Homo sapiens: one gene and its partners. The protein of the gene in region 2 interacts with the protein of the main gene of each other region in a pairwise test. Each region holds a gene or a part of one and is shown on either strand. Other genes may lie near its edges.

What was found.
Region 1: the proteins of ALMS1 (region 2) and DYSF interact in a two-hybrid assay, tested with the Homo sapiens proteins (one large-scale study listed by BioGRID and IntAct).
Region 3: the proteins of ALMS1 (region 2) and MEGF10 interact in a two-hybrid assay, tested with the Homo sapiens proteins (one large-scale study listed by IntAct).

The regions. Positions count from the first base shown.
Region 1 is NC_000002.12:71,679,635-71,683,285, forward strand, and holds part of DYSF (dysferlin), read left to right. Parts: intron 1-1,366; coding exon 1,367-1,476; intron 1,477-2,895; coding exon 2,896-3,043; intron 3,044-3,651. UniProt on the Homo sapiens protein: Key calcium ion sensor involved in the Ca(2+)-triggered synaptic vesicle-plasma membrane fusion.
Region 2 is NC_000002.12:73,392,265-73,395,915, reverse strand, and holds part of ALMS1 (centrosome-associated protein ALMS1), read right to left. Parts: intron 1-3,651. UniProt on the Homo sapiens protein: Involved in PCM1-dependent intracellular transport. Required, directly or indirectly, for the localization of NCAPD2 to the proximal ends of centrioles.
Region 3 is NC_000005.10:127,289,427-127,293,623, reverse strand, and holds the start of MEGF10 (multiple epidermal growth factor-like domains protein 10 isoform a precursor), read right to left. Parts: upstream 2,829-4,197; 5' UTR 2,816-2,828; coding exon of another isoform or gene 2,501-2,815; exon of another isoform or gene 2,048-2,500; intron 1-2,047. Other genes in the region: uncharacterized protein LOC105379199, read left to right, coding at 2,501-2,815. UniProt on the Homo sapiens protein: Membrane receptor involved in phagocytosis by macrophages and astrocytes of apoptotic cells. Receptor for C1q, an eat-me signal, that binds phosphatidylserine expressed on the surface of apoptotic cells. Cooperates with ABCA1 within the process of engulfment.

The DNA of each region.
Region 1 (3,651 bases), 1.7 Mb from region 2:
TTAGAGGGGTGACTGGAGGGCCCGAGAGAACCGTCCTTCCCCTGAGTCCACAGCAGCCATGGAGAGGAAGTTAATCCCTGAAAGTTTACTTAGAAATTTCAGGCAGCCAGCCAACCCTGAAAGTGGTCCTTGAAATTGAATATACTTGTTATATAAAGAGTGGTAACAATAAGAAATACTAGTACCCCAAAGGAAAAATGAGAAAACGACATGCATAGCTAATTCACAAAATAATTACCAATGTCTGCAAAGCATTTTTAAAAAGGTTTAGTCTCTCCAGTAATTAAATAAAGGGATACAGTAGTCCCCCCCTTATCTGGAGGAGATATGTTCCAAGACCCCCAGGGGATGCCTGAAACTACAGATAGTACTAAACCCGTATTATGTACTGTGTTTATTCCCATCTATACATATCTATGAGAAAGTTTAATTTCTAAATGAGGCACAGTAAGAGATTAACAACAATAACTAATAATAGAACAATTATAACAATATATTGTTATAAAAGTTAGGTGAATGTGGTCTTTCTCTCTGTGTGTCAAAATATCTTACTGTACTGCCCACGGGTAGCTGAAACCCTAGAAATCAAACCCAAAGATAAGGGAGGACTACTGTATTTTTAAATGTGTTTTTTTTGTCTGTTAAATTATATATATTTTTAAAACAGAAATGCTCATTGCTGCTGAGCATGCAGAGAGAAGACAGGCCCCCCTTTTACTTCTGCTGGGAGCACTAATGGTTTTACTGTGTGGAGGAAGAAATTTGATAACATATAGTAACAGATTTAACAATATTTATGCCCTCGGACTCTGTCATCCGACTTCTAAAATCCTTCTAAATAAATAACCCAATAAATTTTAAAAGTCTAGGTTCTGGGATATTTGTTGCAGCATTATTTACCCTATCAAAGAGTTGGAAACAACCTAAATGAACCAAAATAAGTAGTTTACTAAATAATTATGGTCAACCATCCCATACAATGTTTGGCAGTCATTAAAAACCGAACTTTAAAGAATAGACAACTACATAGTGAAATATATTCCGAAGTGAAAAAAGCCATCTATGGAACTGTATATGCACAGTGTGACATTTCATAAGCTTGCAGAGAAAATCAGCTATGATGCATGCAAATGTTAACAGTGCTTGTCTCCATGTAGTGGAAGTAGGGGTGGCAGTCTCCCTTCTTTATACATTTCTGAAGTTTCCAAATGTTTTACAAAGAGCAGGTGCTGCTTTTATGTTCAGAAACCCTACATCTTTTTTTTTAAATAATGAAGTGGCCCTTATGTTTTTTCTGGCCTGGTTACTCTCCAGGCCACTGAGCAGAGCCTTCGTGCCCCTAACCAAGTGCTCTCTGTCCCCTCAGGGCAAGCTGGAAATGACCTTGGAGATTGTAGCAGAGAGTGAGCATGAGGAGCGGCCTGCTGGCCAGGGCCGGGATGAGCCCAACATGAACCCTAAGCTTGAGGACCCAAGGTCAGTGCCCAGCCCCTGAGCCCCAATGCCCACAGGTCTGGGGGTATAGGCCACAGTCCAGGAGGCATCCCATTGCATGGCCATGTAGAAGTCACAAAGCCCACGTGGCTCAGAGAGGGGCACGACTCATCCAAGGCCACACAGTAAGTTAGGGGGAAGGTGATGGGCATCTGTCCAGAGAACACTGGGCTCAGCGAATTCAAGATGCAGGTGCTATTGGGTACCTGTTGGTTGTGTGCCAAGCATGCTATCCTATGCATGTGTACATTGTGCTATGGAACCTTCCCTGCAGGGTAGTTGTTATTATCCCCATTTTACAGATGAGGAACAATCTCAGCAAAGTTAAATAAGGGCATTCCAGCTAGGACAGTGGTGAAGCAGAAATGCTCTCACCTGGTCTGATTGGCTCCAGAGCCCGATCAAGGTCTTGACCCTACCAAGCTGCCTTCGGTGGCTCTCCTATGGTGCCAGTGTGACTTTCAAATGGTTTTTCAGCCTTCATTTTTCCATCTGTGAAATGGGGAGCCCAATCCCTGTCTTCCCTACATCACAGACCTCTTGGGGAGATAGACCAAGCCAATGGATGTAGATGCTGTGAAGGCAGTTACAGGGGCAGAGTCACTGAAAGATGGCTGTGGGGGCTCAGGAATGTGTTTGCTGGATCCCGCCCCACCAGCCTACTTGGCTCAAGTTGGATTTAGCATAGATGGCTCAGTTAGTCACCATGCTGTGATTAGCACCGTGTGCCTGAGTGCCATGGGGCTGGCAGAGCAGTGAGAGGCACCCTTGCCTAAGGATGCTGGGATCTGCACAGGAAGAAAAGAGAGACCCGTGAGACACCAGTGTGCAATCTGATGTTAACGGGGCCATGATGGAGACCCAGAATCCTCCACGTATTTTGAGATGTGGAGCTGGCCTAGGGAAAGGTTTTGAGATTCTTGGTTGTGAGAGAACCAGCTTCCTATGTTCTCTTCCCACCGTTGTTCCCTGAGCATGGACTAGCCATGTGCATCTGGGCAGGTGTCTTGGCTTATCTGGGGCTCGGTGGGCTGGAGAGCACTTTGAAGCACTGCCCAGCTCCTAAATCTGCAGTTTGTGATTAAGTCCTGGGTCAGGAATGGGTGAGGGCACCAAGGAAGGTGTCCTGGAGAGGATGGCAGAGAAACTGGGCCACTGAGGATGCTTAGGGCTTGGCAGCACCCAGAAGAGGAGGGCAGCACAGGTGGGGGTGATACTGTAGCAAGGGCTTGGGGGAGAGGGAATGCAAGGTGCAAAGGGCTAGTTTAGGGACAGGGCCTGGGCAGGCGCTGGGGGTGGACTGTGGAGGGCCAGGCCATTGGACCTGCTGTTGAGAGAAGAGTTTGGAGAAAGCAGCCCTAGTAAAGGATGCCCAGTTGACCTCCGGGATCTCGCTTCCAGGCGCCCCGACACCTCCTTCCTGTGGTTTACCTCCCCATACAAGACCATGAAGTTCATCCTGTGGCGGCGTTTCCGGTGGGCCATCATCCTCTTCATCATCCTCTTCATCCTGCTGCTGTTCCTGGCCATCTTCATCTACGCCTTCCCGGTGAGCAGGCCTGACGACACTGTGGTGGGGGAACTCTGGGTCTAATGGGGGAGTTCATCATTGTCCTCAAAGAGCTCTCCCAGTCTAATGGAGAGAAGTAACCTCTGTCCTTGGAGAGCCCCTGGTCTGATGAGGATACAGAGCCCAGCTCTGGGGAGTCTCCAATCTGGTAGGTGTACAAAGTTCTACCCTTGGAGGCTCTTAGTCCAGTGAGAGAAACTGAGTTCTTGCCCTTCATGGTGAGACAAAGCTGTCCTCAGCAAGCCCCTAGAATTTGTAATGAAGGGGTTAGGAGAAGATGAGGCCCTTTGGGTTGCGGTGGGCAGGGGGACTTTCTGGAAGGGAGGTGTGGAACTGGGTCTGAAAGGAAGGTGAGATGTTGATGGCAGAGCAGAGAAGGTCCCTTTGTCTTAACAGCAGTTGCAAATCCAGAGGAAGGGAGGAGCTGGGGCTGGGAGAGCATCTCAGGGTCCACCTGAGGCACTCAATAGAGTGTGTCCTGCCTCCTGCAGCAGGTGGGCATAGGGAAGCTGTCGGGGAGCGGGAGGCTGGCCCAGGAGCCCTTACTTGGCTCGGTGCCCATTTGGGTTTCCTTTCACTTGGTAAGA
Region 2 (3,651 bases):
TTCCAATGTAGCCCAGAGAAGCCAAAAGATTGGACACCCCTGCCCTAAGATCAGGAATAAAAAAGCATATACACTCTTACCCCTCCTATTGAATATTTTACTAAAGGTTCTAGCCAGGGCAATTAGCCATAAATAAATACATAAAAGGCATCCAGATTGGAAAGAAAAAATAAAGCTATATATATTTGCCCTTGACATGATCTTTACAAGAAAATCATAGAGAACCCACAAATAATCTACTAGGATGAATAAACAAGTTCAGAAGAGATTCAGAAACAATATTAATATATATAAAAATCAAGTGTTTTTAAACATCTACAACGAATAACCCAAACATTCAATTAAGAAAAATAATTCCACTGACAATACCATTAAAAACAGTATTTTGAAGAATTTAAGAAAAAAAGTGCAATTCTGAAAACTATAAAACATTATTGAAATTTAAAGAAGATCTAATTACAGTTGTATGCCACATCAGAACATTTCCATCAACTACAGACCACATACATAATGGTGGTCCTATAAGATTATAATACCGGCCCAGCATGGTGGCTCACACCTCTAATCCCAGCACTTTGGGAGGCCAAGGTGGGCAGATCACTTGAGTCAGGAGTTCGGGACCAGCCTAGGCAACATGACAAAACCCCATCTCTACTAAAAATACAAAAATTAGCCAGGCATGGTGGCACACACCTGTAATCCCAGCTACTCAGGAGGCTGACATGAGAATCACTTGAGCCTGGGAAGCGGTGGTTGCAGTGGGCGGAGATTGTGTCACTGCACTCCAGCCTCGGTGACAGAGCGAGACTCTGTCTCAAAAAAAAAAAAAAAAAAAAATATATATATATATATATACACATATATATATATACACACACATATATATACACATATATATACACATATATATACACATATATATATACACATATATATGTAAAATACCATATTTTTACTATACCTTTTCTAAGTATTTGTGTTAGATACACAAACGTATCCAACACAAATACTTACCACAGTGTTACAACTGCCTACAGTATTCAGTACTGTAACATGCTGTACAGGTTTGTAGCCTAGGAGCAAACAGTTAGACTATATAGCCTAGGTGTGTAGTAGGCTATGCCATCTAGGTTTGTGTACGTACACTATATGATGTTTGCACAACAATGAAATACTGTAATGAAACATTTCTCAGAATGTATCCTCATCATTAATTGACACAACTATAAATGAAAGGATATCCCATGTTCATGAACCAGATGATTAGGCCAGGCACGGTGGCTCACGCCTGCAATCCCAGCACTTTGAGAGGCCAAGGCAGGTGGATCACTTGAAGTCAGGAGTTCGAGACCAGCCTGGTCAACATGGTGAAACCCCGTCTCCACTAAAAATACAAAAATAAACCAGGGATGGTGGTGTGCATCTGTAATCCCAGTTACTGGAGGCTGAGGCAGGAGAACTGCTTGAACCCAGGAGGCAGAGGTTTCAGTGAGCTGAGATTGCACCACTGCACTCCAGCCTGGGCAAGACACCATCTCAACAACAACAAAAAAAAGGACCAGATGATTTAATATCAAGATGACCATACTCCCAAATTGATCTACAGATTCATCACAATCTCTATCAAAATACTAGCTGGCTTCTTTGCAGAAACTGACAAGCTAATCTAAAATTCATATGGAATTGCAAGGGGCTCCAGAATGGCTAAAATATCTTGAAAAAGGAAAGCAAAGTTGGAGAACTCCCCCATTTCAAAACTTACTATAAAGCAATATTAATCAAAAGAGTGTCTCCTAGTCAGGCATGGTGGCTCACGCCTGTAATCCCAGCACATTGAGAGGCCGAGGTGGGCAGATGGCTTTAGCCCAAGAGTTTGAGACCAGCCTGGGCAACATGGTGAGATTCCATCCCTACAAAACCTACAAAAATTAGCCAGGCATGGTGGCATGTGCCTGTAGTTCCAGCTACTTGGTAGGCTGAGATAGGAGGTCCACTTGAGCCCAGGAGGTGGAGGTTGCAGTGAGCCGAGATTGCACCACTGCATGCACTCCAGCCTGGGCAACAAAGAGACACCTATCTCAGAAAAAAAAAAAAAAAAGTGTTTCCTGGAATAAGGTGGGCATATAGATCAATGAAATAGAATTGGGAATCCAGAAATAAACCCATATATCTATGGCTAACTGATTTTCTACAAGGGTACTAAGACCAATCAATGGGGAAAAGAACAGCCTCTTTAACAAATGGTGCTGCAGAAAGACAAACTGCCTATTCTTCCAAGTGGGAGCTAAACAACAAGTACATGTGGAAGCAGAGTATGGAATGACAGAGAGTGGAATCTTGGAAGGGTGGGGAGTGTGAGAGTGGGGTGGATGAAGAGAAATTACTTAATGAGTACAACGTAGGCTACTCCAGTGATGGATACACTAAAAGCCCTGACTTTACCGCTATGCAATATATCAATGTAACAAAATTATACTTGAACTCTATAAATTTACACAAATCAATAAAATTTAAAAAAAAAAACAGTGCTGGATAGTCACATACGAAAGAATAAAGTTTGAACCCTTTCTTCATATCGTATACAAAAATTAACTCAAAATGGATCAAAGACCTACATGTAATAGCAATACTATAAAATCTCAAAGAAAACATAGTAGGTCCTCATGACCTCACATTTGTCAAGGGACTGTATCTTGTCAATCCCTTGATTGATAAGGGATTATATATGTAATATGCATATATATAAAGAATTCTTACAATCCAATAGTAAATAGACAAATAACCCAATTAAAGAATGGGCAAAAGTTTGACCTGAATAGATATTTCTCCAAAGAAGACACACAAATGGCCAAGAAGCACATGAATAGATGCATGAACCATAAGGGAAATGCAAATCAAAACTACAAAAAAGTCAGGTAATAACAAGTGCTGATAAGGATGTGGAGAAACTGGAACTCTCATACACTGCTAATAGGAAGGCCACTTTGGAAAACAATCTGGCAGAAACTTAAAAGGTTAACAGAATTCCATATGTCCCAAAAATTCTACTCCTAGATATACATCCAAGAGAAATGAATCCATATGTCCACACATACACTTATATAAGAATGTCTACGGTAGCATTATACATAATAGCCAAAAAGGAGGAAAAAAAACATGTCCATCAACTGATGAATGGATATACAAAATATCACATATCCATATAATAAAATATTATTCAGCCATATAAAGTAATGAAGTACTGATACATGCCACATCACAGGTGAATCCTGAAACCATTAAGCTAAGTGAAAGAAGCCCAGTCACAAAAACACATATCATTCCATTTATATGAAATGCCCAAAATAGGTAAATCTATAGACAGAAGGTAGATTAATAGTTGCATATGGGGAATGGAAGACGGGGGATATCAGCTAAAGTGTATGGGGTTTCTTTTAGAAGTGATAAAATGTTCTAAAATTGACCGTGATCATGATGGCACATATCTATGAATATACAGAAAATGACTGAATTGTGCACTTTAAATTAAAGGTGAATTGTACAGTATATGAATGATATCTCAAAAAAGCTATTAAAATGTTTTTAAGTAAGTCAATTAAGCACTCAACACAAGGAAATACACACACACACACACACACACACACACACACA
Region 3 (4,197 bases), on a different chromosome or scaffold from region 2:
AAAGAAGGTAAATTCACTGCTGCTAAATGAGCATGTGACTTGAGTTTTGCATTAGAATCACCTGGGGAACTTGTAAAAATGCAGACTTCTCACAACTCACAGAAGACTTACTACTTCTAAATCAAGGCAGAAGGGATTAGGGTTTGTATAGTTTGAACCATACAAAATTGCCATTTATTTAGGTCAAAAATGGTCAAATATCAGCAATTTCTCATAGTTCACTCTAATATTTTAACAAATCTCCCCACTTCATGCTTCTGGTATAAACCAAAGTCTGAGAATAGTGAAAGACAGACAGAGATAAACGCTTTTCCCTTTTCATTAATTATCGATGTTGTTACTCACTTTGATGAATATGCAAAGATGGAAGTAACGTAATTTATGTACCTAAAACAAATGTTAAAAGAGAAAAGTGGGGGTTCAAAAACAGCCACCAATGAAGTAAGGCAGCTAATTTAAGGATTTTGGAGCCAGAAGGAACACTGGAGGTTATTCTACTCTTTCCCCACCTCTCAACACAAGTTTATACATAATAAAACTGATGCCTAAATGGAGAAAAGCAATCTGCTTGAGGTCATAGGGAATATTTTGTTCAATTTCTCAATGATACGTGCTTTTTATGTGCTCTTATGAGCATTTTAACAGGTATGGAAATTGTGTAGCTAAAAATACTTGGGATTTAATTTATAGAGTGCTAGGTCACACACTTGAAATGGGAGGAGGCACATAAAGCCAATACTCATGCATAGCCATTTTTAAAATATAAAACCTAAAACAGTGCTTGACATGTAATAGATGGTTAATAAATACTTACTGAACAAATGAGTGACCTCTAAAAAATAGGTTAAAGAAAGTATATTAATGTAAAGGATTTCCAAGGAGGTATACAGGCTGTGAACTGAGTGTAGATTTCCCACCTCCTCACCTGTTCCAAGTAGTCTTTGGTGCCCATCCATGACCCACCACCCTATAAATTCCAGCTCTGCCATATACACCTTTATTTTTCCAACTGAAAGTGCCACAACAAAAAAGCAATACAAAGATCATGTCTGAGCTAAGTTTGACAATAGGTGGTAGTGAAGCTTACAGATGAGCACAGTCTTCAAAGTCCATCCAAATAGGAATAATAGCTAACACTTACTGACAGCTAATAGAAGCTATACTAGAGGGATACAACAATAGTTAATGCTAGCTATACAATAATAATAAAGCTAATTTGTGCCTACTATGTGTCAGGCTTGTTAGTCCTTCACATGCATTAACTTACTTAATCCCTTTAACAATTGTCTGATGTAAGTGCTATTATTATCATTTTGATTTTACATATGTGGATAAACAGATTAAGTAACTTACCCCAAAATCACAGAACTGAAAAGTGGCAGAGTTGTGAGCTGAACCCAGGCTGGCGGGTGCCCAGAGTTTACCAACTGAACTCTTTGAACTCTCAGTGGTAAAATTAAAAGTTCCCTGCAAGCTGACCTCTTGGAGCACTCGTGTCAGGAAGATGACATTTCTGGATAATATAAATTGGCCCCAGTATTTCTGTCCATAAGGAATGAAGCATTTTTATTTGGGAACCCTATACACAAAGTGAGACCCAGGATATAAAGGAGTAAGGCAAGAAGAACAAGAAGAAATGTCATTCTCTTCTGCCTTGGCACAGCATGGTTATCACAGCCTAAGAACAATAATAATGGCTAATTTTGGCTAATAAGATCTCCAACTTTGACTTTCTCCTAAATAATGTGGGTCCTTGCGTGAGGATATTTTCTAAAGAAGCAGCAAAGATATTGCCATCATTCATTTGCTCAGTGGTGTCACTAAGAAAAATACTTCCAGAAAGAAAATTAAGGCCAAAACACTTCCTTAAACCAGGCGTAAAAGTCCTCTAACAAGGAATTTAAAAGAAAAAGATCAACACCGGATTTATCTTTCTTAAGTAACTATCACTTGAAAAACCGTCCCTCCCAGCACTCCTTAAGGAGCCAAGCATACTGACAAGGCCCCTTTGGTCTAAGACTGCGACCTCACACCCCTACTGATCGCTGAGAACTCAGGAAAGGGGAGCATCCCGCCAGCCTAGAGCGTTATCTGCACAATCTGAATACCAAGGACGGGAGAAAGAGAAGTTTAGAAAACAGTGAAGATCCCAGAAAGGAAGTTCAACTGACCTAGAAGAAAGGGCCCAGCTGAAACTGCCTTTCAAGCTCAGTCCGATTCCCCACAAATCTCCCTACATCCAGCTATATCGCCCGGCAAAATGAAACAAACACAAGGTAAGGCAATACAAGGGCAGGAATTATGCAAAATAAAATGCGTAATGAGGATGTCTCTCCATCAAAAATACTCCAGGATTTTCCTACACAATCCCATGTAACAAAACCAAATGCAAACAACAATAAACCCTTAAGAAGCGCATGAACAACGCAGACTGAGCCCATCTCGCCCCACCTCACGCCGCACCCCGGTACCCTGGCTAAGGAAAATGTGACCCCCGCCCATGAGAAGCCTTCCGGCGTCCGGCCAAGGTCCAGGAGCCGCCGGAGTTGAGTTTGCCCAACTCTTACCCAGGTCCAGAGATCTTGAGAATCGCAGCGCAACCTTTTCTCCCCGGTCTTCACCCAAAGCCAGCCAAGACACAAAATCTGTTCCAATCAACGCGGTTAGCGTCCAAGCAGCGTCCCAGAAGAAAGCAATCTTTGGGAGTCTTCTTTCAGGCGTAAAGGTGGAGAAGCGGGAAAGAGGAACGTCTCAACGCGTTCCCAGTCGCCCAGTTTTGCGCACCGGGAAAGTACTTGCTGCAAACTTGAACAAGGTTTTCTCTGTCTGGCCCGAGATGCTGGAGGGGGTGGGGGCGGGTAACCCGAGCCGGGGCCGGGATTCGAGCAGTTGCCGCTGCTGCAGCTGCTGCTGCCGGGGCAGTGGCCGCTGGGGGGTTGTCGCTTGGCGCCGCGCGCAGTCCCTAGCGCAACATGCAGGATCTTCCCGGCCTGACTGCTGCACCTCGATCGTGAGTCGCCCCTGCCTGAGCGGCTTCCACCGCCTGGTGGGTGACCCCGCCAAAGGCCTGGTCGCGAAGTTAGCAAATGTTGGGGTCACCGCAGGGGGTGACCGAAGGGGTGTCAGAGTGGGTGCCCGCCTGATTCCCAACCCACGTTGGGTGCAAGTCCCTCGGCAGAGTCCCTGGGAGGTGTTCTAGACCCTCTGTAAGGATTTGTGGGACGGTGGCCGGCGCCCGAGCGGCCAACTGGAGTGGACGGCGGGTCCTCAGTGGTGTCAGGGGAGAAAGCGCAAAGGTGGGACCCAGAAAGGATGGTGATTAAGCCGTGCCAGAGAATGTGATGTGGCAGCAAAGTACATGGAAAGGTGGGGCGGGGAGGTGAAGGCAGAGGGTGGAGGGTGGGATAGTCTGCTTTACCATGGAGGGGCGGAGAGAGAACTCCCCGGACGCGCAGGAAAATCCCCCCAGGTCCTCGGAGGCCTCGCGCGGCAATTTATTGGGGAATGGCTCCCTCTGCCGACTCGCCGAGGAGGCCCCGGGAGGCCCAGTGATGGAATGTTAAAACCATGAACGGGCTTTTCCATTTGTGGGTTAGACAGGACATGAATTCTGGAATCTGCTTCTCTGACTGTCCATCTTCCTCTTCCAGACTAAAGAGTTTTCCAGCTTTTACAGGACCCCAAAAGATACAAATTTGACTGCTGCAAAGTTCTTTCTTGTGTCGTTGAATTCTATCCCCCTCTCCCCACAAAAAAACAAAAACAGGTTTAAGCCCCATAACCACTCCAGGTAACCATCTCCTACCAGGCTTCTCTTCCTCCCATTAATAAGAACTCTTTCTTTTTAGAGAGACTTCAAGAGCGTTCGAGTCCCTACTCAATAACGCTCCTGGAAAATAGTACAGACTCCATATTATGTTTGAGTGAATAAATGAATGGAATGAATGAACATAGATATGTTTGAAGCCCCTCACCATCCTCTTTACTCTCCCTGGAAATACACAGGGGAAGACTGTTTTGGTGTTTGTTTATTTGTTTGTTTAGCAGTCATCATTGCCCCTTCTCTGGTAACAGTACCTCCATTTTTCTTTGAGATACCATCCCTGCCACAAGGACAGCAGTCTGGGTGGAAGGTCAGTCAGGATGGTCCAGCTTTTCCCTGTCCAGAAGAGAGCAACTGACCTCAGCTAAGCCCCT